Homo sapiens: one gene and its partners. The protein of the gene in region 1 purifies or fractionates together with the protein of each later gene. This does not show direct contact. Each region holds a gene or a part of one and is shown in the gene's direction. Other genes may lie near its edges. The genes, in order: ETS2, ANKS6, IMPACT and DET1.

What was found.
Region 2: the proteins of ETS2 (region 1) and ANKS6 purify together in Homo sapiens (affinity purification with mass spectrometry; one large-scale study listed by BioGRID and IntAct). This does not show direct contact.
Region 3: the proteins of ETS2 (region 1) and IMPACT purify together in Homo sapiens (affinity purification with mass spectrometry; one large-scale study listed by BioGRID and IntAct). This does not show direct contact.
Region 4: the proteins of ETS2 (region 1) and DET1 purify together in Homo sapiens (affinity purification with western blotting, with the first as the bait; one study listed by BioGRID). This does not show direct contact.

What each region holds. Positions count from the first base shown.
Region 1 is NC_000021.9:38,807,788-38,812,428, forward strand, and holds part of ETS2 (protein C-ets-2), read left to right. Parts: exon of another isoform or gene 1-2,009; intron 2,010-2,247; coding exon 2,248-2,319; intron 2,320-4,641. UniProt on the Homo sapiens protein: Transcription factor activating transcription. Binds specifically the DNA GGAA/T core motif (Ets-binding site or EBS) in gene promoters and stimulates transcription.
Region 2 is NC_000009.12:98,787,339-98,795,662, reverse strand, and holds part of ANKS6 (ankyrin repeat and SAM domain-containing protein 6), read left to right. Parts: intron 1-5,056; coding exon 5,057-5,559; intron 5,560-8,324.
Region 3 is NC_000018.10:24,434,719-24,443,042, forward strand, and holds part of IMPACT (protein IMPACT), read left to right. Parts: intron 1-3,236; coding exon 3,237-3,322; intron 3,323-5,777; coding exon 5,778-5,900; intron 5,901-8,324. UniProt on the Homo sapiens protein: Translational regulator that ensures constant high levels of translation upon a variety of stress conditions, such as amino acid starvation, UV-C irradiation, proteasome inhibitor treatment and glucose deprivation.
Region 4 is NC_000015.10:88,543,882-88,548,179, reverse strand, and holds the start of DET1 (DET1 homolog), read left to right. Parts: upstream 1-1,498; 5' UTR 1,499-1,640; intron 1,641-1,804; exon of another isoform or gene 1,805-1,916; intron 1,917-3,485; exon of another isoform or gene 3,486-3,569; intron 3,570-4,298. UniProt on the Homo sapiens protein: Component of the E3 ubiquitin ligase DCX DET1-COP1 complex, which is required for ubiquitination and subsequent degradation of target proteins. The complex is involved in JUN ubiquitination and degradation.

The sequences.
Region 1 (4,641 bases):
ACAGAATCAAGTCAGCAAGCAGTCTGCAAGCCTAAGGAAGAAAAAGAGCTGACCCATCCGGCTCTGGATGGATAACTGGCAACACCCAAGATGTCTATGATTTTGGCCTTCTGTTTGAGGCTTGTTTATTTCTTTAATCAGCAGCTACCAGGACTTATTTCATGCAGAGAAATGACATAAAGCTCTAGAGGAAGGAGCATTTCACATTGGAAGGAGTAGTGAGAAGGGCCTGATCTGATAATATCAGGATGGGTGGGAAGGGTCCATTCCTCATCATTCATGTTCTCCCGGCACAGAGGACTGTGTGGAGGACTCAGGATTTAGGACCATACTCAACTGGGGTTTGATCTCCACTTTGCCCTGCGGTGGCCCCTCTGGTAGCTATGTGGATCCTGGGCAGATTGTCCATGTTGCTGGGCCTCCGTTGCTTCACTGTATGACGTCTGCCTCTCAGGGATGCAGGAAGATTCAATTAGGTAGGAGTGGATGGTCCCCCAGCACGGGGCTTAGCTCTTAGTAACTAGGCATTCTGGCAATGGCAGCCATCAATAGGAGAGACTATTGATTGTTGAGTGAATATAAGTGGCATAATCCACCAAGTGGAGATTCTGAGTGAATGTGGCCACTTTGGACCCAAGACTGCTGCCCCTCTCTGTCCTCTCATAGGACTATTATTTATTGCCAGTGCTGACCAGCCTTTGTTGGCTACCATGATCATTACCTGCACTCCGAGTGTTTTAACAGAATTTTCTGATGCCTCTGGCCTCACCTGCTGCCTTTTAGCCAAGAGGGGTGTGTGTGTATGTGTGTGTGTGTGTGTGTGTGTGTGTTGGGTGTGTGTTGGGTAGCAGGGTTCTTGGAAGGTCTGGTTTAGCCATAATGTTGATCATAAAGAGAAAACAAGAAAATAAATGCAAATTAAATAGTTCGGTGAGCCTTTGTTATTTCGCCACATCCAGTAAGTTCTATCAGTTGAATGTTGTCTGAATTACTTAAAAAGTTCTCAGTTGTAAACAGGTAAGAGCACCCAGTGGAGGCCATGGAGCTAGGCTTAGAGCTTTGCCACCAGCCTTCAGTTCCATAGCCATGAACCTGGGAGGGCAAGGAATCACCCTAGAGGTGAAGGCCATTCATCGGTGCTAACCCAAGGTCTCTGAAAATGAGTTTTAGTTACTCTATTATCTAAGTATCTTTCTTACTGATATGTAACTTACCTGGCTGAACAATTACATTTTAGAGCTCCAAATAAATTTTCAGCCTATTATGTCATTGTCCAATTACAAGCCTCATTGTAATAGCCATGTTAAAAACAATAAAGCCGGTGAAATTGATTTCAGTGTATTTCAAATTAACCTAATATATTCGAAATATTATGTATGTATAAAAATTATTGAGCTTTTTTCTTTTTTCCACTAAGTCTTTGAGAGCTAGTGTGTATGTGTGGATTTGTACTAGCCACTGGTTGAGAGCTCTGTAGCCACACATGGCAAGTGGGTACCATATTGCTTAGCCCAGGCCTAGTAGAAGATTAAGACTCAGTCAGAGGAAGTAAGGCAGATCCGTGCTTGGAATCAGTTCCTCTTGAAGAAGTGCACAGCCAAGCAACACACAAAGCAGAAATATTTTGAGCTCTGTATTCAAAGCAGGAAGATCTGGGACCATGTAAGGGGGTTTGGTCTTCAGTTCTCCCTTTGATCCCTTCCCTGGGTGTGTGCTTTCTTACAGCCTGGAGAGTGGAAGGGAAGAGAGGGGGCTTCCTGGACTCCTTTCCTGTCTCTAGAAATGACCCCTGCAGCTGTCCTGAAGCTCTCAGGTTAAGCTGATTGTGTCCAGAGCAGACAGGAGGCGGCCCACTGCCCCACTGTACCCACCCAAGCACTCACCTAAGCTGGCCATGGAAATGTGAATGAAAAGCCTGACCCAGGCCCTCTTGCCCTGCTAACCCAGCAAGGAGGCTCTGACCAGCCAGCCAGCAAGTGACTTTTTCTGTGACATCTAAGTGGAATTCAGTGAGGAATCAGCATTATTATTCAATCACTGAAACAGCATATCCCATTGTGATACTGAGAAATGCTTTCCTCTTGAGACCTTTGGGAGGACAGCCATTTAAACAAGAATTCCCTGCATTCACTTTTGAATTACCTGTTAGCTGTAGAACTCAGCCAGGATCAAGTCTTGATGCCACCAATGATGAGTTTAGTGTACTTAATCTTTTGCCTCTTTGACTTTTTTTTTTTCTTTTTTAAGATGAATGATTTCGGAATCAAGAATATGGACCAGGTAGCCCCTGTGGCTAACAGTTACAGAGGGACACTCAAGGTGAGTGGGCAAGTCTTAATTTTTTTTTTTAATTGGAAAACTCGATCTCTAGGAGGAAAGAAAAAAAAGGCCTGGGTCCCAGAAAACTGGTTGTAGCCCTAGCTTCTTAATTTATTGGCCATGTGACTATAGACTATTTGCTTACTTGCTCTGGTCCTCAGTTTTCTGGTCTGCAGAATGGGTATCTTGATGTGTGTTGTTCTTCTCCTCCACGATATGAAACCAAAGGCCTTTATAGCTTGTTTTCTGAGGCTCCTTCCAGGTGAAAATCCTATAACTCCCAATAAAACAGCTGGAGAGGCTGTCTCTACTGCCTTTTCTGTCTACCCAGGAGTTTCCTTGGTTGATGGGAAGCTGTTTAAGAACTGAAATGAGAGAGAAGAGGCAGACAGACCCAACCGCTACAGCTCCTATCAGAAAGGGCAGCGCCCGTGGAATTGTAGGTAGCCTGTTACTGGCTCAGAGAACAAGCAGGCCTACTTATGTTAAACCAAAAACCAGATGAAAAATGAAAGCGCCCTCTCTGCTGCATAAACATTTTATGTAGCTTCTATCATCATTCCTTTTGGGAACATTCTTTAGTAGCACAAACTGGTAATCTCCCACTTGTCTTCTCCAAATATGACAGCAAGATTTGATTGTTTTCAGTATTATGTAGTAAACATGTTTCAGAAGCATGATTTTAAAATTGGCCTCCTCAAAGTTTAGCGTCTTGCATAATGATGATGTACGTCTCTGGCATATTACATTTTCCTTTGTATATCATTATTGAGGTTATTTGTCTGATATGACCCAAAGAGGCAAAACTCAGCACAGTCCTTTCTGCAGTATTCTAAAGGTCATCAAACTTCAGCCTAGTGAGTCTGCTTGTTTGATTTGGCCGGACATTTTAAGCATGGCAGAAGTGGTACAAGAAATCATGGTATTAAGTTGAAACCACACCCCTTAGAAAAATCCTTCTATTAATTCAAATAATTTGACGATGCTTATGCGGTTTCTGAAAAGAAGCAGTCGTTGCTGAAATTGATGTGTTGAAATAGGAAGCACAGATTTGTATTGTCTTTTGGCTTCCTGGCTTTAAAAAAAAAAAAAAAGAATTTACGGTTAGGAAAGGCATTTCTTAGTCACCTGGGCAATGCTTGTGGGAACTTTAAAAGTTTATTGGAGGTTTCACCAAAATTAGCTCTGCTCTAAAGTAGTTTGTAAATCCAGATGAGTAATTTGCACTTGCCTGATTGATCGGTTTTCCTCGTAGATCTCAGGCAGTTGGTCATCATTGACTTGGATTTTTTTGGGCTGGGCTCCAGCCTCTGCCTGCCCTCTTTTGTAATGCGTCATTCATTGTTCTGCATTTCTAAAAAGAAAGCGGGTAACCGATTTTATTTGTAAATGTGTTACACATTTTCTTATTGATGACTCAACAGATGGGTCATTGTATTACACATAACATGGGATTTCCAGCTTATGTTGGAAAAATATAGTCTTTCTTCACGTGTTCCTCAACAATTTAGGCGATGATGAATCCAGATATTATCGGTTACTTTCAAATGAGTCTTACATTAAAAGGTATTTCTTTCATAAATGTTATGTAAGATGCTCAGAAATCGAGTTAGTGTAAGGTTTTATCTTTCTGTGTGTCTCTTCTTTTCTGCAGATAGTTTAGTTTAACTTTAAACCTATTTCCTTTGGAAATCTTTCCCCTTAGTAGGTGATTTGGGTTTTTTTTGTTTTGTTTTATTTGTTTTTTCGTTTTTGGTTTTAAGCAACAGGGTCCTTCTCTGTTGCCCAGGCGGGAGTACAGTGGCTTGATCGTAGTTCACCGCAGACTTGAACTCCTGGGCTCAAGTGATCCTCTGGCCTCAACCTCATAAAGCACTGGGGTTACAGGCATAAGCCACCCCGCCTGGCCTGGGGGCGGGGAGGGGGTTCATTTTTAAGACACTTTACTTGTTATAAAATGAAACGTTAAGGAATTTTGTCATGTATTACTATTTTCCAAACCATTGGAATTGATGTGGAAAAGCATCTCTAGTTTCAGTTAAATTGTTTCATGGCAAACATTTCAAAATAAATGCTTCCAAAGATAAAGTAGTGTATTTCATTGTTTGATTTTTCAGTGTTTATCGGGTCATTTGCCTTTTAACTGCATTGTGCTCAGACGGCCTTGTCAAGGGTCATTTTTCTTACACACACAGCCTAGTTGAATTTTTCTCAATGTAACAGGAGGGTCAGGTGTTTGGTAAAGGGGTCTCTGAGGCTCCTCTCGACACCATTGTAAGATTCTGTTATTTTCAGATTTGTGTATTTAATATATTAACTTAA
Region 2 (8,324 bases), on another chromosome or scaffold:
TTTCTGGTAGAAAAGATGTTTATATCCACGTGGAGACCTGCGGATACCTGAGAATTAGCCAGGACATTACAAGTGGGCTGTGGGAAGGCATGATGGGAGGCCCATGCAAAGGCTTGGGTGCACGAGCTGGTAGGACTGGTAGAATGAGGTATGCGTAGAATGTATGAGTAGAATGATGTACTAGTCCTCCCTGGAGAGAAGGCAGATGCCAGGGAGTTGGGGGAGTGTGGGAGCTGAGAAACGCTAGCTATCCTAGGGTGCTAGGGAGTCATGGAAGGTGCTAGGGAGTCATGGAAGGTTCTAGGCAGAATGAGTGACAGGATGAGAGTTACGTTTTGGAAAAATTACTTTCCTTGAAGTGTGAGAATAGATTAGATACTCTAGGGTAAGCTAGAGTCAAAAAGGCTGGTTAGGTAGAGTTTGCTGCAGTCTGAGTGAGAGGTGATGGTGGCCTAGACCAGAATGGAGACAGCGGAGGGAGGGCACCCAGATGAATTTGTGATATATTCAGGGAGTAGATCAGCAGGAGTTGACGACTGGCCCTTGGGGAGGGGTTAAGAGAGACAGCAAGGATGGCATCTAGAGATCTGGCTTCTGTGAAGCCTGCCATGATATCTCCCTGTTCTCTGGTCCCTCCGCAGCAGAAAGGCCTCTGTGGTAGCATCCATCACACCATGTTAATGCTGACTGGCTTCCTCAGTACCCAAACCTGGCCACACATCAGAATCACCAGGATGCTTGTCTAAGTGCAGATTCCTGAGTTCCTTTTCTGGAGATTGTGATTTAGAAGGCCCAGGGCAGTGAGGGGAGTAAGAGACAGGGACTCTGTGTGAGAAGAGGCTCCCCAGTGATTCTCTTGTATGGTAGGTTTGGGAGCCACTGATGTGTTATGTGTGTCTCATCTCTGCAATCCACCAAGTGCGTGCACAGGGGCCCTGGTGAGCCCCCTGAGGAATTTACTGAGTGAGGTTTGTGACTACAGCACTGACATGCCTCAGAGTGTCTCAGAGACCCCAGATCATCAGTTTTAACCAAGTTCTGCAGGATAGTCTTGAGCCTGGGTATTTTAAAATGTGCTGTTCCTCAGTTGGTGTGACACCGACTCTATATTCAGGTAGCATCTCTGCCTGTGTTGAGTTGTGCTCCAGCTTTCTGCTGCGTAATTCATAAGAAAAGGTCAAGTTGAGGAGTAGTATATATGGAAGACTTCCAGAAGGATGTACAGTGTGTCTGTCCCTCACATCGGGGTAGGCAAATGAATGGCCTGTGTGCTGACACCTTCCAGCCTTGTGCTCTTCTTCCTTGGATCTGGATACGCCCCCAGAATCCTGCTCAAAACCACACCCCTGGCAGCCACCACGCTGGGTCTGAGCAAGCATCTATTTATCGTCCCAGCTCTCTGTGTGGATCAGGCCAGACTATTAGACACCCTGTGCCTTTGGTCTTTTGTGGGTGTTTTAGTATTAGAAATGGTGACCTTAGTGTTTTTTCCTGTTCTTTTTTTTTTTTTTTTTGAGACGGAGTCTCGCTCTGTCACCAGGCTGGAGTGCAGTGGCGTGATCTCGACTCACTGCAACCTCCGCCTCCTGGGTTCAAGCGATTCTCCTGTCTCAGCCTCCGGAGTAGCTGGGATTACAGTCACGTGCCACCACGCCCAGCTACTTTTTGTATTTTTAGTAGAGACCGGGTTTCACTGTGTTGGCCAGGCTGGTCTCAATCTCCTGATTTCGTGAAACGCCCACCTCGGCCTCCCAAAGTGCTGCGATTACAGGCGTGAGCCACCGCGCTGGGGCATGTTTTTTCATGTTCTTAAAATAATAGGTAACCTTTGGCCAGGTGCGGTGGCTCACGCCTGTAATCCCAGCACTTTGGGAGGCCGAGGCGGGCAGATCAGGAGGTCAGGAGATCGAGACCAGCCTGGCCAACATAGTGAAACCCTGTCTCTACTAAAAATACAAAAATTAGCTGGGCGTGGTGGCACGGGCATGGTGGCACGCACCTGTAGTCCCAGCTACTCGGGAGGCTGAGGCAGGAGAATCGCTTGAACCTGGGAGGCGGAGGTTGCAGTAAGCTGAGATCGCGCCACTGCACTCCAGCCTGGCGACAGAGCGAGACTCCATCTCAAAAAACCAGAACAAAACAAAACAAAAAACAACCTTTATTGAGCACTGACTTTCTGTCAAGCACTGTGCTAAGTGCTTTAAATGAATTAAGTCATTCAATCCATACAAAACCTTAGGAAGGAGGTACTATTGTCATCCTCATTTCATAAATGAGGAATTGAGGAACAGAGAAGTTAAATAACTTGCTCAAGTAACATAGCTACCAAGTGGCGAGTCAGATTCACACCTAGGGAGGTGGCTCCAGAGCCTGTGCTCCCAGCCATGAATCCTGTAACTGATAGTTTCCCTCTTGGTGTTGGTGCCTGGAAGCGGCTTGCCAAATTTGCCAGAGACTTCTCTCCAAGGGACAGGGTTGCATAGTGTTTACCTTCCTTCCCTACCCTTCATTTCCTGCCTGCCAGTGGGGCAGAGCTGGACTCTCAGCCCAGTGCTTTGAGAGGGGAAAATGTGTGCCAGCTCTTTAAACACAGGTGTTAATTGCTGAAATTCATCAGTAATCACAGCACCTGTTCAGAAAGCCCCTAGCATGCCCATCTCCGGCAGTTACCTATTAGAAACTTAGCATCCACAACATTATCTCAGCCTTGCTTGGATCCTTTTATATTTTCAGCATAGTTGAGTGCTCTCTTGGGCTACTCACTAATTCAGAAAACATTCCAAATTTCACTATTTCTGCTCTAATTCACCCCTTTTCTTCCTCCTTAAAAATTGGTTATACTGGAGCTTCGATTTTGAGTCCAGGTGCAACTTTTGACTCTATCACGTTCAAATTGAGAGGCTTTAGATTAATTGCTTTCCACTGTAATCTTCAGTTTCCTAATCTGTGAGTTTATCTCGGGGTTTATTAAGATCAAATGAGATAAAAATGTGACGCACCTTGTAATCTGCTGTTAGGGATTATGCTAGATTTTATCTCATGCTTGATAACTAAATAGTGTAATCTTTTAGAAATGTACTACAGTGGAGGATACACCAGTTCTTCAGGGATTTCCACTGCTCACCTCTGGACCTTCCCCTATGTGGTTATGCCATTTATGCATTCATTTACTTGGCTTGTTTGACCAAATTTACTGAGCTCCGATGTGGATCAGCCACTATGGTAGGGGCTGGGGAAACAATATGCGTGGAACCCTGTCCTGTCCTTGGAGAGCCTGCCACTGAATAGGAGAGACAATTAGGGAAAGAGGGCTCACGTGCAGCCAGAGGCGAGCCCGTGGAATTAGGTGCTCAGAAGAGGGGCACTGACCTAGCCTGGTTGAGGGGTGGTCTGGAAGCTGCTCAGAGTGGGTGAGATATGACTCCTGAAGCAGGACACGGTGGGGGTGTGCTGAGTAGATGAGGACAGGAGAGTCCTCTGGTGGGGTCAGGATGGTGAAGGTGTGGGGAAGGCGGGAAGGTGTGGTTTGGGAGCAGGAGGAAGTGAGGTTGGCAAAGCAGTCAGGTCTTCGGCAATCAGAAGCTGGGGAGTGACAGATTTGGGTTTGGAGAATATCATTTGGGAGTCGCATGGAGGATGGGCAGGAGGGAACGAGACTGGAGGCGGGGAGACATTGGGGTGCAGCTTTCTGCATTGAGTTGGTTTCAATTTGCCTTGTCCTTTTCCACTCTGGGAGTGGAGGTCAAGAGGCCCAGCCCCCTGCAGCTGATGGAGCTGTGTCACCAGGCTCTTGCTTCGTGGCTGAGTAGCCCCATGCTGTTCAGGTTCACATCCCAGAAGGTATTCAGCCGGAGCCTCAGACAGAGTTCAGCCCTGGCCTGGCCGCCAGCCGCCAGGAGGAGGGAGGTCTTGGGTTTAGATGAGGTGCAAAACTGGCTCCCGGGAAGGAGGGCTGAGCATCGAGAAACCCAGAAAGCTGCCTCACAGATGCAGACATGACAGTGGCTTTGTGGTCTCGAAAACCTGGAGTAGACAGCCCCTGTCTTGTCATTGTTTTCTTGTTAGTCCAGGGCCGCTTCCAGCTTGGAGATACACAGCTCCGAGCCCACCAGAGACACCACAAAACAGAACTTTTCTGCCCTCTGGTGTTAAAAGAAGGAAGAGATTTTGCTGGGAAGAGGTACCTGTTTTCCTTCTCCTGGTACTAGGAAGTTGGTGGGTGCAGATCTTTCTCTTCAGGGGCCCAGCAGTGACTTCATTGAGGAAGATCTGGCCTAGGCTGGGTCCTCAGCCGCCTGCAACAAACATTCCTGCCAGCAGGTGGCAGCAGGCCTCCAGGCCGCAATGCCCAGCCTATCTGCTGACCACAACCTTGCCACACCTCTTGGCATGGGGTGTGTGCTTTTGGGGATGGGGAGGGTAGAAATGAATCAGACATGGGCTCTGCCTGTGGGGAAATTAGAGCACAGGCAGAGAGACAGATTCCCAGGCTATAAAGCAGAATAAAATCGACTGTCTGAAATGTAGGAGGCAGCATGGTGTAAGAGAAAAAGCAAGGGCAGCGGCATTCACACAGACCTGTCCTGACCCTGATGCCACCCCTTACCAGCCGGGTAACCCTTGGCACGTTGAATAACGTAACATGAACAATTATAATACCTAACAATCGCTAACATTGATGTGATGTTTCCTGTGGCCAGGCACAGAGCCAGGTGCTTTACATGTAACTCATTTAATCCCCAACAACCCTTGAAGTAGGTACAGTTATATCCCCATTTTGCAGATCAGGAAATGAAGGCACAAAGAAATCAAAGTTCTTCCTAAAGGTCATGCAGCTGGTGGTGGGGAGAGCTGGATTTGAACCCAGGCAGGGCAGCTGCTCACCTTCATGATGATGCATCTGCATCCATGTGGCTGGCACAGTGCCTGGCGCCAGAATAAGACCTCTTATCATGAGCAGCTGTCAGGACTAATAATTCATGCCAATTAAGGATGACATAAGCTGGCCCCCGAGTGCTGTGTGTTCAGTGTCACTAATTCTCCATCTTCCTGGCAGATTTGGGCATGTGAGTGTGGCACACCTCCTGTTGGATCACGGGGCTGATGTCAATGCCCAGAACCGGCTGGGGGCCAGTGTGCTCACTGTGGCTTCTCGGGGCGGCCACCTGGGTGTGGTGAAGCTGCTCCTGGAAGCCGGTGCCTTTGTGGACCATCACCACCCTTCAGGCGAGCAACTGGGGTTGGGCGGCAGCAGGGATGAGCCCTTGGACATCACAGCCCTGATGGCTGCCATCCAGCACGGGCACGAGGCCGTGGTGCGTCTACTGATGGAGTGGGGCGCGGACCCCAACCACGCAGCCCGGACCGTGGGCTGGAGCCCGCTGATGCTGGCCGCACTCACTGGGCGGCTTGGAGTGGCCCAGCAGCTGGTGGAGAAGGGCGCCAACCCTGACCACCTCAGCGTGCTGGAGAAGACCGCCTTCGAGGTTGCACTGGACTGCAAGCACAGGGACCTTGTAGACTACCTGGACCCGCTGACCACCGTCAGGCCCAAAACAGGTCAGGCTGCATGCCCCCCGTGGCTTCACAGAGGACCCCAAATTGTGTTTATGTGGCTTAAGCTGAGGATTGCTCTACTGGAAGGACACGCAGAACTCAGAGTCCAGCCCTGCAGACCACTGAGACTGAGGAAGTGGTGTGCTTAAGTATCGGGGGGATTGCCTGTGACATGCAGGTTCTGGGCCCACTCTCTGCAGAGTGATTTGGTAGCCCTGGGCAAGAGCCTGGAAGCCTCTATAACAAGGCTGCTCTCCCCAAGCACATCATTCTGATGCAGGTGGTTCTGGGGCCCTTCTACAACAAGGTTTGGCAAACTTTTTCTGTAAAAGGCCAAATAGACTGTATGGACCATACAGTCTCTGTTAAAACTACAGTAGTCACTTCTGCTAGAGTGAAAGCAGCCTTACATATGTAATGAGTAAATGAATGGGTGTGGCTATGCATATAATATGTAAATGAGTCAGGTATGGCTAGGTTCCAATAAATTATAACTACAAAAACAAGCAGTGGGATATATTTGAGCCATGGGCTATAGTTTGCCAGCCCTTGTTCTACAATAGTGTGCCTGACCTCCTCTGCCCTGATCATTTCTCAAACACTAGTTCATGTAAAATTGATGAAAATTAGTTTTTTAAAAAACATCTAGCAGTGCATCTTTTTTTTTTTTTTTTTTTTAACTTCTTGCCATCTCTCTGGCATGTAAAGAGTTGTCTAAACAATCCTTAGCAAATCTGCCATAGGACATACCACGTTTCAAAACCTTTAATGCACGGTTTGCAATAAGATCGCAACACACAGCCTTGGTACCCTCTGTCTATGTAAAAGGCCTGACTTCGACGGCAGGACTCACAGCCAGGGAGTAACAGTAGGTGGGCTGCAGTGTATATAAACATCTAGCTCTGAGAGGTCAAGCACTGAAGAAAGTAGCTTCAGGCACATTGGCTAAAAAGACCTGAAAGTGTTAAGTTTGTTACCATTGAAAGAATATAGAATAGCCCCATCAATCAAGAGATGCTGAAAATTTGGTAAATGCTTATTAGAAATACACTCTCCAAAAAAAAAAAAAAAGAAATACACCATCCAATCAGAACAAGTCTGAAATAAACATGTTTTAAAAGCCTGTAATGACAGAGAGGTGGCAAAAATGAAGAGGATGCTCAAATGAAAAGGAAAAAGAAGTTTAGGAAGAACTACCTGAAGCCAAGAGACCTCTTACTTTGTCCAGGTGGGAAACTGAGGCCCAGAGAGGGAAGAAAGCTGGTCAAAGGTCACACACCCATTGGAAGCTGAGTGAGTGACACTCAGGAGGTGAGGATTCCATGGGAAGAGCACCTAGAGGTGATTCTCCCACCTGCAGCTCCTGCATGGGCTCTAGAAGCTGGTTTAACACATGACTCTTCTGAGCCTTTGCCTCATCTGTGAAATGGACACAATGACAACTACTACGGGGTGGTGGTGAGCAGAAGGCAGGTTATCCTCTGGCGTGTGAGATACTCAGCCCAGTAGAGTGTTAGGGACTCATAAAGGCTTGCTATTAGAAATTAGGGCCCCAGTCTCCTAGGACAGGGTTTTGTTTTGTTTTTGTTTTTGACACAAGGCCATTGCTCTCCTTTAAAGGTTTGGGTTGTTTGTGGCAGGGATGGGGAAAGGATCTGCCCTTCCCAGGCCCTGCCGTGCCCAGCACACCTGCCATGCTGAATCTCCCCTCACCCTCGCAGGGACCCTCTGAGGAGGGTATTCCCCCATTTTGCAGGGGAGGGAATTCAGGCTCAGAAGTGAACACTCCAGAACTTGCACCTGCCCGTGCCTGCCGAGCTGTGCCTCTTCTGTTGTGCATGCGTTCTCCATCCCAGGTTTCCTTAGCCTCTGCATCTTGAATCTTCACGGAGTGCCCTCGGGCTTAGCTTCTGACAGGCCTCATTTTAGGGGTTGTCCTGGCATCATGGGATGGCGATGCCCTCATTTCCCCAAGATGCAGTGGCTCAGACACATTGGTGGATGTGGCCAAGGTCACTGTCCACTTGGTTCGATGCTGGCTGTGCCCCTGCTGGCCAAGGGACCTTGAACCAGCTGCCTCAGTTCACCAAGCTCCCATTTCCTTCTCCACAAATGGGTGCTGGAGTGATACCCGCCTCAGGGCTGCTGTGGGGTTCATGTGAGATCCTGCCTGGCCCAGAGGGAGCACATGGGAAGTGGATTACTCCATAGTGTTGTCGGCGTTATTTGACAGGAGCGAACCTCGGGTCTTCCAGCAGGATCTGGTCATGTTCCCATTGAGCAGAACTAGTCTGAGGCTCAGTTCTCCCACTCTGTACCTGGGTGGTCTTGGTCATCTTAATTGGCCCTGCAGGACTACAGTGTCTTTTTTCATAAGATAGTCATAATAAAGGCTCTTTTCTTGGGAGATTTTTGTGAGGAATAGTAAGATCAGGCCTGTAAAATTTTCATCGCAGTGCCCTGGCACATAGACGACATCCAATAAATGGAAACTATTATGTTTTGATTGATGATACATTCATTCCGATACTTTACAAAGACGTACTGAGGCCTGCTATGTATCAGGCACCTTTCTAGGCACTTTGGATACATCAGTGAACAAATGAGATCCAAATCCCTGACCTTGAGGACCTTGGCCTTGATAAGGGGAGACAGGCAGTCAGTAGGAAATAAGCATATTAAATATATAGTAGGATAGGTGGTAAGTGCCACAGGGTTAAAAAAAAAAAAAAAAGGGCAGTGTAAAGAGGTTGGGTGTGGCAAAGCTG
Region 3 (8,324 bases), on another chromosome or scaffold:
TGCCATTGCACTCCAGCCTGGGCAACAAGAGCAAAACTCTGTCTCAAAAAAAAAAAAAATATATATATATATATATATGTGTGTGTGTGTGTATATATATGTGTATTATATAAGTGTATATATATGTGTGTATATATATGTGTATATATATGTGTATATATATGTGTATATATATGTGTATATATATGTGTGTGTATATATATATATAAAAGCTAGGATTTGGTGATTAATTAGATGTATATTTAGTTGTTGTACCTACTTTTTTTTTTTTCTGAGGTGGGGTCTATCTCTGTTACCCAGGCTGGAGTGCAGTGGCATGATCATGGTTCACTGTAGCCTTGACCTCCTGGGCCCAAGTGATCCTCCCACCTTAGCCTCCTGAGTATCTGGGTTTATAGGTGTGCCACCACTGGCTAATTTTTGTATTTTTTTGTAAAGAAGGGGTCTTGCTACGTTGCCCAGACTTGTCTGAAATTCCTGGCCTCAAGTGATCTATCTGTCTCTGCATATCAAAATGTTGAAATTACAGGCATATGCTACTGTGCCCAGTCCTTAATTTTTATTTAAATATTTTGCATGTGAATATTTTGAATAAATGAAAATAACTTTTGATAAAACAAAAAGTAAATACACTTAAAATACTTAGAATATGATACTGTTTAAGAGAAAATGAAAAGGATTACAAGTTTTTTATAGTATTTGACTTTGTGATGCTCTATTATAGCAATATTTAATTTAGAAATCTGAGAAAATAATTTTTGAAATTTTCTACATCTCTTCACATTTCGATGTATCATGGCATGTTAGGTTTTAATGTTGGTGAGTGAGGCTTCTTGAATCAAAAATTACACTGGATAAAGTCAAACAGACAAGGAAGACTGTATTCAAGGCCGCTGCAATAGGGGAAGGAGGCCAGAACTAAGTGTGAACTCAACTCCTCTGAAACAAAAGGCAGAAGGGTTTTTAAGGGCCAGGATGAGCTAGTGGAAAAATACTGAAAGATATTATGTGGGGCAGTTAATCGGGTGTGTTGGGCATATTGAGTTATTGTTGAGTTTGCAAATATTTCTCTTTGTGAGTAGGCCATCTGTGTTTACTAATAGGTACCCGTTGAAGTTAGCCTCCTATTCTCCCACAGAGACTGGAAGATAAGGGCAGTGTCTTCTTTGATGCTGTGTTTCAAAGGGATGGTTTCCAGGTCCTTGAGAAAGACATTTCCTGGGTTGTAAAACCAATTAAAGTTTTCTGTAAAAAGATTTACATATATCTCAAAGAGATGGAGAAGGAATTTACAATGACAAGTTTTCTGAAGAAAATGCTCTAAGAAAAGGGAGGTAAGGGCCTAGAGTCAGGAATGGGCCCATATAAAGTTTAGTCGAGCTGAGGTTAAGGCTGTTTCAGTCAGGCTTTTGGAGTCAGTTTTTTAAATAGTGTCATCTCTTTGTGTCTGTTTTCTCATCTGTAAAAAGGGGATAATATTGTAAGCATTAAACTAGCAGCTATCATTTTTTTGTTCTTTAAAAATTTTATTTTTTTATTTTTTTGAGATGAAGTCTTGCTGTGTCGCCCAGGCTGGAGTGCAGTGGTGCAATCATAGCTCACTTCAGCCTCCAAACTTCCAGGTTCAAGTGATCCTCCCACCTCAGCCTCCTAAGTAGCTGAGATTACAGGCACACACCACTGTGCCTGGCTAAGTTTTTTAATTTCTTACAGAAACGGAGTCTCGCTTTGTTGCTCAGGCTGGTCTCAAACTCTTGGTTTTAAGCTATCCTCCTACGGTGCTGAGATTACAGGTGTGAGCTGCCACATCTGGCCTGTTTTTTTTTGTTTTGTTTTTGTTTTTGTTTTGAGAAGGGGTCTTTTTCTGTTGCCCAGGCTGGAGTGCAGTGGCACGATCTCCACTCACTGCAACCTCCACCTCCCAGGTTCAAGCAATCCTCCCACCTCAGCTTCCTGAGTAGCTGGTATTACAGGCACGCACCACCACATCTGGCTAATTTTTGTATTTTTTTTGTAGAGATGGGGTTTTGCCAAGTTGCCCAGGCTGGTCTCGAACTCTTGAGCTCAAGTGATCTGCCCACCCCGGCCCACCAAAGTGTTTTGATTACACCACGCCCGGCTCTGGGATGTTCTTATTTCAAAAATCTTCTCATCCAGCTTATAATATTGAAAATTAGGTGACAGAAACTCAGATCAAGTGATTAGTTTAACTTCACACAGCTTAGTGCATTTTAGTGAATAGCTTTACTGTTATATCAACCAATACAAGTATTTAGTTTTAGTACTAGGAATTGTGGGTGTGATGGGGAGGATTTGAGGGTATAGAATTATTTAAAAACAATGTTGTTTTCTTCTGTCTCTTGTTTCGAAAGTTTTGGTGGGTGCTGATGAGTAGTGATAAAGAGAGATAATGGTTTCAAGGGAAACTTTTAGAGGAAGGAGGTGAGGTGTTGCTATATAGTAGTGTGGTGATATCTTTAAACACATACCATACTTACTACAATTAGTGTCTTTTTCTAAAGAGCAGACACTTGGGCCTTTATTTTATTGCTGCTACCATCATTTAACATAACTATGGACATGACTTTAAAACCTGTGACACATTCTTTTTCTCAGTGATCCTTTGAGATGGATTTAGTTACCTGAGGCAACCAAACATCATTTGGAACCAAAATGAATCAATTTAGGCAATAGAATGTTTTGTCAGAAACAAGATATGAATATAAAATTGTTGAATTGTCTTTTAGGTCTTGTAAATTGACTCCCTGAAGGAGTTTCCCATATGCTTTACATTCTTTCTTGTTGAGATAAGTATACTAAATGATAAGTGTACCAAATAAGGGGTTTGAAATTCTTAAAAAACTTTAAAAAAGCAAGCAGTGATCAGACATCGATACTGAAAGATTGTATCCACTTACAGAAACTAAGTCACATTTATATTTCTTTAATCCATCTAGTTTGGAAATGTTTATTCCCCTCTTTGGTTACAGCTCTTCTGCTTATTTTAAAGTAAGCCATGTTAATTTTGGAGTCAACTGGAATTTTTAACGTTGCTATAACCTGTATTAACTACTCAGACACAAATGTTGATAAACCCCAGGTTTTTATAAATTATTTTAAAAAAGAAATGGTTAGATTGTTTATAATGTCTTGGATTGCAAATGTCTGTATCTTCTTGAATTTGAGAAGATGATTTTTGAAATAACAATTTTTTTTTTCCCCTGAATTTTGTTTAGTCAGAATATCGGTGAAAGTATTCTTTACCTGTGGGTGGAGAAAATAAGAGATGTTCTTATACAAAAATCTCAGATGACAGAACCAGGTAGGATTGAAAAATACTATCAATACTCTTTTAACTTATAATAACTACATTTTTATGTAGATACTCTAGTTGAAATTTAATGTGAAAATCTGTATTCTGGTTTATGGTTTGTATATTATAAAATACAAGTTTCTCTGAAAAGTTTAATTGCTCATGTAATTATAGTTATTTATTTCTATAAGGTTTAGCCTCTTTGATTTTGTATTACAGTATTCCTCCTCATCTGAGATTTGGCTTTCCATGGTTTCAGTTACCTGTGGTCACCTGTTGTCTGAAAATATTAAATGGAAATTTCCAGAAATAATTCATAAGTTTTAAATTGTGTGCCATTCTGAAAATGTTATGAAACCTTGGGCTGTCCCATTCTGTCTAGGGTCTTGTCTAGGATTCTACATTGCTTTCCATTGTTGTTTCTCTTTACTCTCCTTTAGTCTGTAAACAGTTGTTCAGTGTTTCCTTGACTTATAACCTTGACACTTATGAAGACTACTGATAGTTATTTTGTAGAATGCCCCTCAATTTGGGTTTGTCCATTGTTTTCTCATGATTGGAGTGAGATTAGTAGCTGGGAGTGGTGGTGTACTCCCAGCTACTTTTAAAATTTTTTCTACAGACGAGGTCTCCCTATGTTGCCCAGGCTGATCTCAAACTCCTAAGCTCAAGTGATCCTCCTGCCTTGATCTCCCAAAGTGCTTGGATTACAGGTGTGAGTCACTGTGCCTATTGTATCATATGCCTTATTATTGGTGATATTTACCTTGATGTCTCGGTTACGGTGGTGTTCGCCAAATGTCTCCACTGTAAATGCTGTAGTCAGGGTTCTCCAGAGAAACAGAACCAATTGAATATATGTGTGTATATACATGTGTGTATGTACCCACACACAAAGAGAGAGAAATATATTTTAAGAAATTGGCTTATACAGTTGTGGAAGGTGGCAAGTCCAAAATTTGCAGGATAGGCTGGCAGGCTGGGGACCCAGGGAAGAATGAATGTTGCGGTTTGAAAACAAAGATGGTCTGCTGGAAAAATGTCCTCTTCTGGGGAGGTCAGTCTTTTAATGTTAAGGCCATCAGCTGATTGGATGAGGCCCATATGGAAGACAGTCTGCTTTACTCAAATTCAACTGACTTAATTGTTAATCTCATCCAAAAAATACCTTCAGAGAAAAATCTAAAATAGTGTTTAACCAAATATATGGGTATTGAGGCTGGGCACAGTGGCTTGCACCTATAATCCCAGCACTTTGGGAGGCCGAGGTGGGTGGATCACCTAAGGTCAGGAGTTCAGGACCAGCCTGGCCAACATGGTGAAACCCCGTCTCTACTAAAAATACAAGAATTACCCAGCACGTTGGGAGGCCGAGGCGGGCGGATCACGAGGTCAGGAGATCGAAACCATTCTGGCTAACACGATGAAACCCCGTCTGTACTAAAAATACAAAAAATTAGCCGGGCGCGGTGGCGGGTGCCTGTAGTCCCAGCTACTCGGGAGGCTGAGGCAGGAGAATGGCGTGAACCCGGGAGGCGGAGCCTGCAGTGAGCCGAGATCGCGCCACTGCACTCCAGCCTGGGCGACAGAGCGAGACTCCGGCTCAAAAAAAAAAAAAAAAAAAAAAAGAATTAGCCAGGCGTGGTGGTACGCACCTGTAATTGCAGCTACTTGGGAGGCTGAGGCAGGAGAATCACTTGAACCTGGGAGGCGGAGGTTGCAGCGAGCTGAGATGGTGCCACTGCACTCCAGCTTGGGTGACGGAATGAGACTCTGTGTCAAACAAAAGTAAACAAATATATGGGTACTGTGGCCTAGACAAGTTGACATGTAAGATTAACCATTGCAGTCACTGTCTTTCTCTTTGTAGCTTGAGGGAGATACTTTGAAGCTATGCTAATATCCTGTTTCTCCTTAAACTTTCTGCCACTAATTTTAGTATCTATCCATGGAACTTGTCAACAATATTTATTACTGTGGTGTTTGCCTGATGATGATTTTCTATTTTCTTCATTCCTTCCTCATTTAGTAATTGGAATTCTATTATGAGGAAGGGATGTCTCTTCCCATTTATGTATTTATTTATCTGTTTATTATTTATATCAGTATGGACTCATGTATATTATTTCAGTCCATGGGTTAAAATGCCATCCTATCATATTTTTTTGTTGCTCAAATTGTTCTAGCTTTGACCTTTAAGAGCCCCTTCAGGTTAACTCCTGTGTTCTTTTTATAAGCCCCATCTCTTTTTGAGCATTTCCCAGTTTGTGGATCCACATGAGGTTCCAGGTTCATCTTGTAGTTTCCTTGCTCCAACTCAGGAATCAACCAGTTCTCCTACGGGCTGAGTGCTGGTTCCTTTCGTTGAAGAGTGGTATTTAGAACCCAAGACCCAGTGATTTTTTTTTAAAAAGCATCGTTTCTTACCTGCGTCATAAAGTAATTGTGTCTCATATTCACATAGGCCCAGATGTAAAGAAGAAAACTGAAGAGGAAGATGTTGAATGTGAAGATGATCTCATTTTAGCATGTCAGCCGGAAAGTTCGCTTAAAGCATTGGATTTTGATATCAGTGAAACTCGGACAGGTATAATGTTACTAACTAATTTCTTTTGAGGAGAGTGGGTTGGTAGTATTATGTATTGTTCTTTGAGATGATAGAGAAATTTACTAATTTTCTCCAGTTTTAGGAAGGAGTTATTAATTTGCAGATAAGATTAATTTTTTCCTGCCTGTTGGCAATTTTGGTGTTTGCCAAGTCTTATCAGAATGGCAAGGAAAAAATGGAAATTTACTCTTTTCCCCCTACTTTCTAGAGTTTTGATTTAGTGATGGAAGAAATTGAAACTAAGAAAGGCTATTAACGTTTTTAGTTAACATCATGTTTTTATATTTCTGTATTGAAATCCTTAGCTGTTTCCTGATGTTTCAGGATTAAATTTTAGTCTGTGCTCACAAATACAAATATATTAACTGAAAGTGCAGCCCTGGAAATTAAAGCTAGTAAAATGCCTTTAAGAGGTTTTTTTTGAGAGACAAGGTCTCGCTGTGTTGCCCAAGTTGACCTTGAACTCCTGGGCTCAAGTGATCCTTCTACCTCAGCCTCCGAGTAGCTGGGACTACAAGCATGCACCATTGTGCCCAGCTTGAGTTCAGTTTTTGTTTGTTTGTTTGTTTTTTTGAGATAGAGTCTTGCTCTGTTGCCCGGGCTGGAGTGCAGTGGCACGATCTCAGTTCAATGCAACCTTGCCTCCCAAGTTCAGTGATTCTCCTGCCTCAGCCTCCTACGTATCTGGGATTACTGGCACATGCCACCATGCCTGTCTAATTTTTGTATTTTTAGTAGAGATTGGGTTTCGCCATGTTGGCCAGGCTGACCTCAAATGACCTACCCACCTCATCCTCCCAGAGTGCTGGGATTATTATAGGCGTGAGCCACCACGCCCGGCCTAGTTTTCGTTTAAACAAATTTGTTTCGTAATCGAGTAGTATTCAACATAAAAATAGGTTGCTGTGATATTATGTTTCATTTTAATATTTTAAAATTTTGAATGTTATTGTTAGTTTCCCTAAGCCTCTTAGGAAAACATGGTAGACCAGGGGGAATATTCATTCTGTTTGAAGGTGAGGGGTTTCCTGTGTCATTACACAGTAGCTTTTAAAAGGTGCTCTGAGTTTTAAGGCTTTTGAATGGTGTCCAGGACTAGTAGAAGGGAACAAAGAGGAAATGAAAGAGTGGGGAGCATCCAGGGCTCTCATTTATGCTCTAGCCTAAGTAGCTCCCATTTTAATCATTTATTTGTGTGTGGATTTGACATATGATATCTTTTGAAAACAGGATCTACCATGAAAAGAAAAAGGATAAAAATCATACTCATAAATAAATACTATCAATTGGTCAGTAGTTCATATTGACCCTAATACTGTATTTGACTTATTACTATGTTAGTACAGCAGTCAAAATCAATTCAGGAAAAGAACAGTATCAGAGGGAAGGTGTAAAACATCTTACATAAACCTACTTTCTTGTCTTGAATAACTTTTCATCCTAAGTGAGGCAGGTAGTAGTAGCCAGGACGATTAAGTCTCTCAACAGAATTGAGGGTTAATTAGTGATTCTTTTTTTTTTTTTTTTTTTTGGAGATGGAGTCTTGCTCTGTTGCCCAGGCTGGAGTTCAATGGCACAAACTCGGCTCACTGCAACCTCCGCCTCCCAGGTTCAAGCAATTTTCCTGCCTCAGCCTCCCGAGTAGCTGGAATTACAGGCACACGCCACCATGCCCAGCTAATTTTTGTATTTTAGTAGAGACGGGGGTTTCACCATGTTGGCCAGGCTGGTCTCAAACTCCTGAACTCAGGTGATCCACTCCCTCGGCCTCCCAAAGGGTTGGGATTGCAGGCGTGAGCCACCACGCCCAGCCATGATCCTTAAACTTGTTTTAAGAGGTATAATAACTGGAAATCATGATGCTCTTTAAGGAATACCAATTGGATGTATTATTGATGTATTTAATTCCATCATATGAAGTAGAAACAGTTTCATTAGCAGAAGGCATTATATTATAGCTACACAATATAAAGAATATAAATTCATAGTTTTCCCAACTCAGAGGTCTAACAACAGTGAAACTGATAAATAAATTTTATATTAGCAGCTATAAATCTTTGGTTTCAGGACTCCTTTACACTCTTAAAAATTATATATTAGATATTGTACCAACTTACACTACTGACTGCAGCAGTTCAAGATTAGTCCCAACCCACTGCTTCCCCTGGGTAACCTTGGCAGGTGGAAATCATTTATAAATCAAGTATTTTAATCTTATGTACAATATAGTTAGAAACTTTTTACTTAAAATTATAATTTAAATTTAATTTTGGTAGATAGCGATTAATGGTTATTTTAGTTGATTTGCCATGTAATTTACATTTCTTTCCCAGCTGCCCCCCCATTTCATTTTTTTCAGTATTTGAATGTAAGGCTTTTTAAAAAATAAAGTTTCTTTTACAT
Region 4 (4,298 bases), on another chromosome or scaffold:
AGCCATCACAGCTGATATCTCCAGGTGCTATCCACAAACTGCCACTCTTAACTCTTGAAGTAAATAAATAATCTTTGCTGGCAGGACTATGCTGAATCTCCTTAGGCACTCTCTAATCAGATATCCTGAGTCATCCCAATTCTTAGACCTTTTATACCTGTTTTTCTCCTTTTGTTATTCCATTTGGTTTCTCAATTCATCCAAAACCATATCCAGGCCATCACCAATCATTCTATATGACAAATGTTTCTTCTAACATCCCCACAATATCACCCCTTACCACAAGACCTCCCTTCAGCTTAATCTCTCCCACTCTAGGTTCCCACGCCACCCCTAATCCCGCTTGAGGCAGCCCTGAGAAACATCGCTCATTCTCTCTCCATACCACCCCCCAAAAATTTTTGCCGCCCCAACACTTCAACACTATTTTTATTTTTCTTATTAATATAAGAAGGCAGGAATGTCAGGCCTTTGAGCCCAAGCCAAGCCATCGCATCCCTTGTGACTTGCACATATAAGCCCAGATGGCCTGAAATAAGTGAAGAATCACAAAAGAAGTGAGTATGCCCTGCCCCACCTTAACTGATGACATTCCACCACAAAAGAAGTGTAAATGACCGGTCCTTGCCTTAAGTGATGACATTACCTTGTAAAAGTCCTTTTCCTAGCTCATTCTGGCTCAAAAAGCACCCCCACTGAGCACCTTGCGACCCCCACTCCTGCCCGTGAGAGAACAAGCCCCCTTTGACTGTAATTTTCCTTTACCTACCCAAATCCTATAAAACAGCCCCACCCTTATCTCCCTTCGCTGACTCTCTTTTCGGACTCAGCCCACCTGCACCCAGGTGAAATAAACAGCTTTATTGCTCACACAAAGCCTGTTTGGTGGTCTCTTCACACGGACGCCCATGAAAGTGACTGCACCCATCCCAGCAGCAGTGTATGAGGCTTTTGATTTCTCCACCTCCTCACCAGTATGTGATATCTTCCTTTTAAAGATATTATAGCCATCCTAAGGGGTATGAAGTAGTATCTCATTGTTTTGATTTGCATTTCTCTGATAATTAATGATGTTGAAGGTCTTTTTGTTAGGGAAGCAGGAGCCTACGAGAGCCAGAGTGACATCATTTTAAAATCAACTCCATCTTAAAACTAGCAAGGCAAATTCCCTGTTAGTCAGAGATGATCAATACAATCTCAGTCTTCAAGGTGCTCGCCATCTAGAAGATAACAGAGTAGGAAGTTTCTCAGCATCTAATCAATAGGTGAAAAATTAATTCTATTCATATTTTTTCAAATGTGCCCAGCAGGTGCAGAGACACTGCCATTGGGACTCACAGAGATTGCCAGGTTAGGTGCCATTTTAATTTTTCCTTCGGAGCCATGGAGCCTCTACGGCTTCGATCCTTCCTCCGGGCACAAGGGTGCGCTGTACCTGTCTCTTAGTGTTGGCTGAACAGTGCCGTGCTCTCCCCTACTTCCCTTTTTGCTGGGCCGCAGTTCCGGTGGCTGGCGGAAACGGGAACGTGCAGCCGCGGGTGCAGGAGTCCTGGGGCATGGCGGGGGCGGGGCAGGGGGAGGCGCGCACAGAACAGGCTGGGGCATCCCTCGCCCTGGCTCTTTGAGCCCGGACCAGACAGGTGAGGACTTACCATTTTTGGCCCAGCCTCCAAGCCCGTCAGACCCTCCCCGGCAGGCTCCTCCCTGCATGACGCTGATGCCCAGAGGCCCCGCGGCCCCCGCCCTCCCTCAGCATTCTCTTCCCTTTGAGGCCCCGCCCCAGGCTTTTCTTTCCGGGGGCGCCCTTTTGGGTATGTGTGCCCGCCCCTTGGCATCCCCTTCTGGTTTAGAGGCCGTCGCAAGGAATTGAGGGACATGTGCACCTTCTCCCATAGGGAAACTGAGACCCAGCAAGGGTAAAGGACTTAGTACCACACAGTGAGTTAGTGTGTTGTACCCAGGGGTGTTAGAGAAAACGCCACACTTTGAGACGAATTAAGAGTCCTTTATTAGCCGGTGACCGAGAGACCGCTAACGCTCAAAATTCTCTCGGCCCTGAGGAAGGGGCTTGATTAACTTTTATACCTTGGTTTAGGAAGGGGAGGGGGGGTCTAGTTAAAACAATTTTACAGAAGTTAGGTAGTCAAAAAGTTAAAAGGATAAATGGTTACAGGAAAGTAAACAGTTCCAGGTGCAGGGGCTTTATGACTATTACAAGGTGATAGACGTGGGGCTTTGGGTGTTATCAATCAGATGAATTCTTGGGGACTGTGGATATAGCTTGCCACAGTATCTTATCAGTTAATTGCATTCTTGGATGTGCTGGGAGTCAGCTTGCACAAGTTAAGTCCTTGAGGAAGGGGCTGCCAGTGAAAGAGCCAAGATGGAGTCTGTCTGGCTCTCTTAGCTAAGGGAGAGTCTAAAAACAGAGTTAGTAAAAACCAGGTTGGGCATTACATTCCCCACTTGTGTTTTTGGGGAATCAAATCATTGATTCCTCAGTTTTAACAAGGGGAGTCTTAAGATACATAAGTTTGACAGAAGCTATGCATTGTTTTACAAAATTAAGAAACCAATTTAATATACAAGGCCTAAAAATTAAACTTAATAGTATGATGAGGAGAGGTCCAGCTAACCCAGTGATTAAAGTAGTTAGCCAGGGGTTCCAGTGGAACATGTTTTGATACCAGGGGATGTTATTTTCTCGTTCCTGTTGTTGCCTATCTAGATATTCTCGAACTTTTTGGAGGGTATCTTTTATGACTAAGAATGGTGGAGGAACAGTTAAATCAACTTTGTCAGGGGGTTTCTGGAACATAGGGTCACCTAGAGCAGTTAAAGGCCCGATTGGCTTGGGTGGGCTCCATGAGACCAGGATTTTTATTTCTATTATTTATTTATTTATTTTGGATGGTGAACATAGTCCCAACATCAAATCCTGGAATATAAAATGTTAATTTCCATGACATGCCGTAATATTATTGTAAGAGGATTACAATTTTTTTTTTAGTACATAATTTAGGATGAGAAGCACGAGTTACCGAATGAAGATCTGGTTGATCCCCCAGAGTAGGTGGCTAAGTTTACACATGTCCAATCAGGGCAGAAAAACTGATAAGTATCTCGACAGCTAGCGTCAGGGTGATTCCCAGGACAGAGGTAAAAGTCAACATTTTGGAGTTCTTTTTCTGCACCTTTGGCACTTCCACACATCCAGTTTGGCTCCCAGAGCACCCAAATCCTGCTACAAGGTCGACACTTCCTGCTTTTGGGACAAGCAGATTGTGTTGCTCTTCGTGGGTACAGGCTGGCTTTGGGAACAGTATACATAAAATCAACTGCAAAGGAGACTTCCTTAGAGGTACCGGCCCTCCAAGTGGTGTTTGCAAATACACGTCCTGACTTAGGCACAGTTTTAGAAGGGGCCTGACCGAGGCCTGGGGACCCCTGTTTTTAGTAGGGCTCTGTTGGCCTTTTTGATGCAGGAGTGATGAATCTAAGCAGGAATGCCATCCACCTTCAGAGCCATTGGCGTGAGGATGACGGTGTGAAGTCTTTTCAAAGCAGGAGTGAGTCCTTGTTTCTGAAACTTTTTAACAAACACTAGTTCTCCTGGCTGGAACGAATGGCAGGACCCCGTCTGGTTAGGAATTGGATTGGGATGGTTTCCTTGAACAAGTGGCAGGGTGATATCTTGTACCTGTTGGGGAGATTGTAGGTACTGTAATAAATTAGCTTGTGATATTTCTGCCAGTTGGGCATCTCTTAGCTTAAGCAAGATAGGCGGCGCCCTCCCATACATGATTTTAAAAGGTGAGAACCTAGCCTGATAAAGGGTGCACCTTACTCTAAGTAGGGCTAAAGGAAGGAGACTTACCCAATTTTTACCGGTTTTTAAAATTAATTTTGTAAGAGTGTCTTTTTAGGGTGCGGTTCATGTGTTCTACCTGCCCAGAGCTCTGGGGTCGATAGGCACAATGGAGCTTCCACTGAATGTTTAACGCCTAACTGACCCACTGAGCTATGGACGAGGTGAAGGCAGGTGTATTATCACCCTGCGGCAGCAGGCAGCCCATATTGAGGGATGATTTTATTGAGTAGGAACTTAACTACCGTATTGGCAGTTTCATTTTTGGTAGCAAATGCTTCAGTCTATCTGGAGAAGGTGTCTACTAGTACTAGAAGCTATTTGTACCTAGCCCGGTGTGGTTTTACTTCTGTAAAGTCAATTTCCCACTTTTCTTCTGGCGAGTTTTCTCAGAGACGGTGGCCTAGGCTGGGTTTAGAACCTTGCTTGG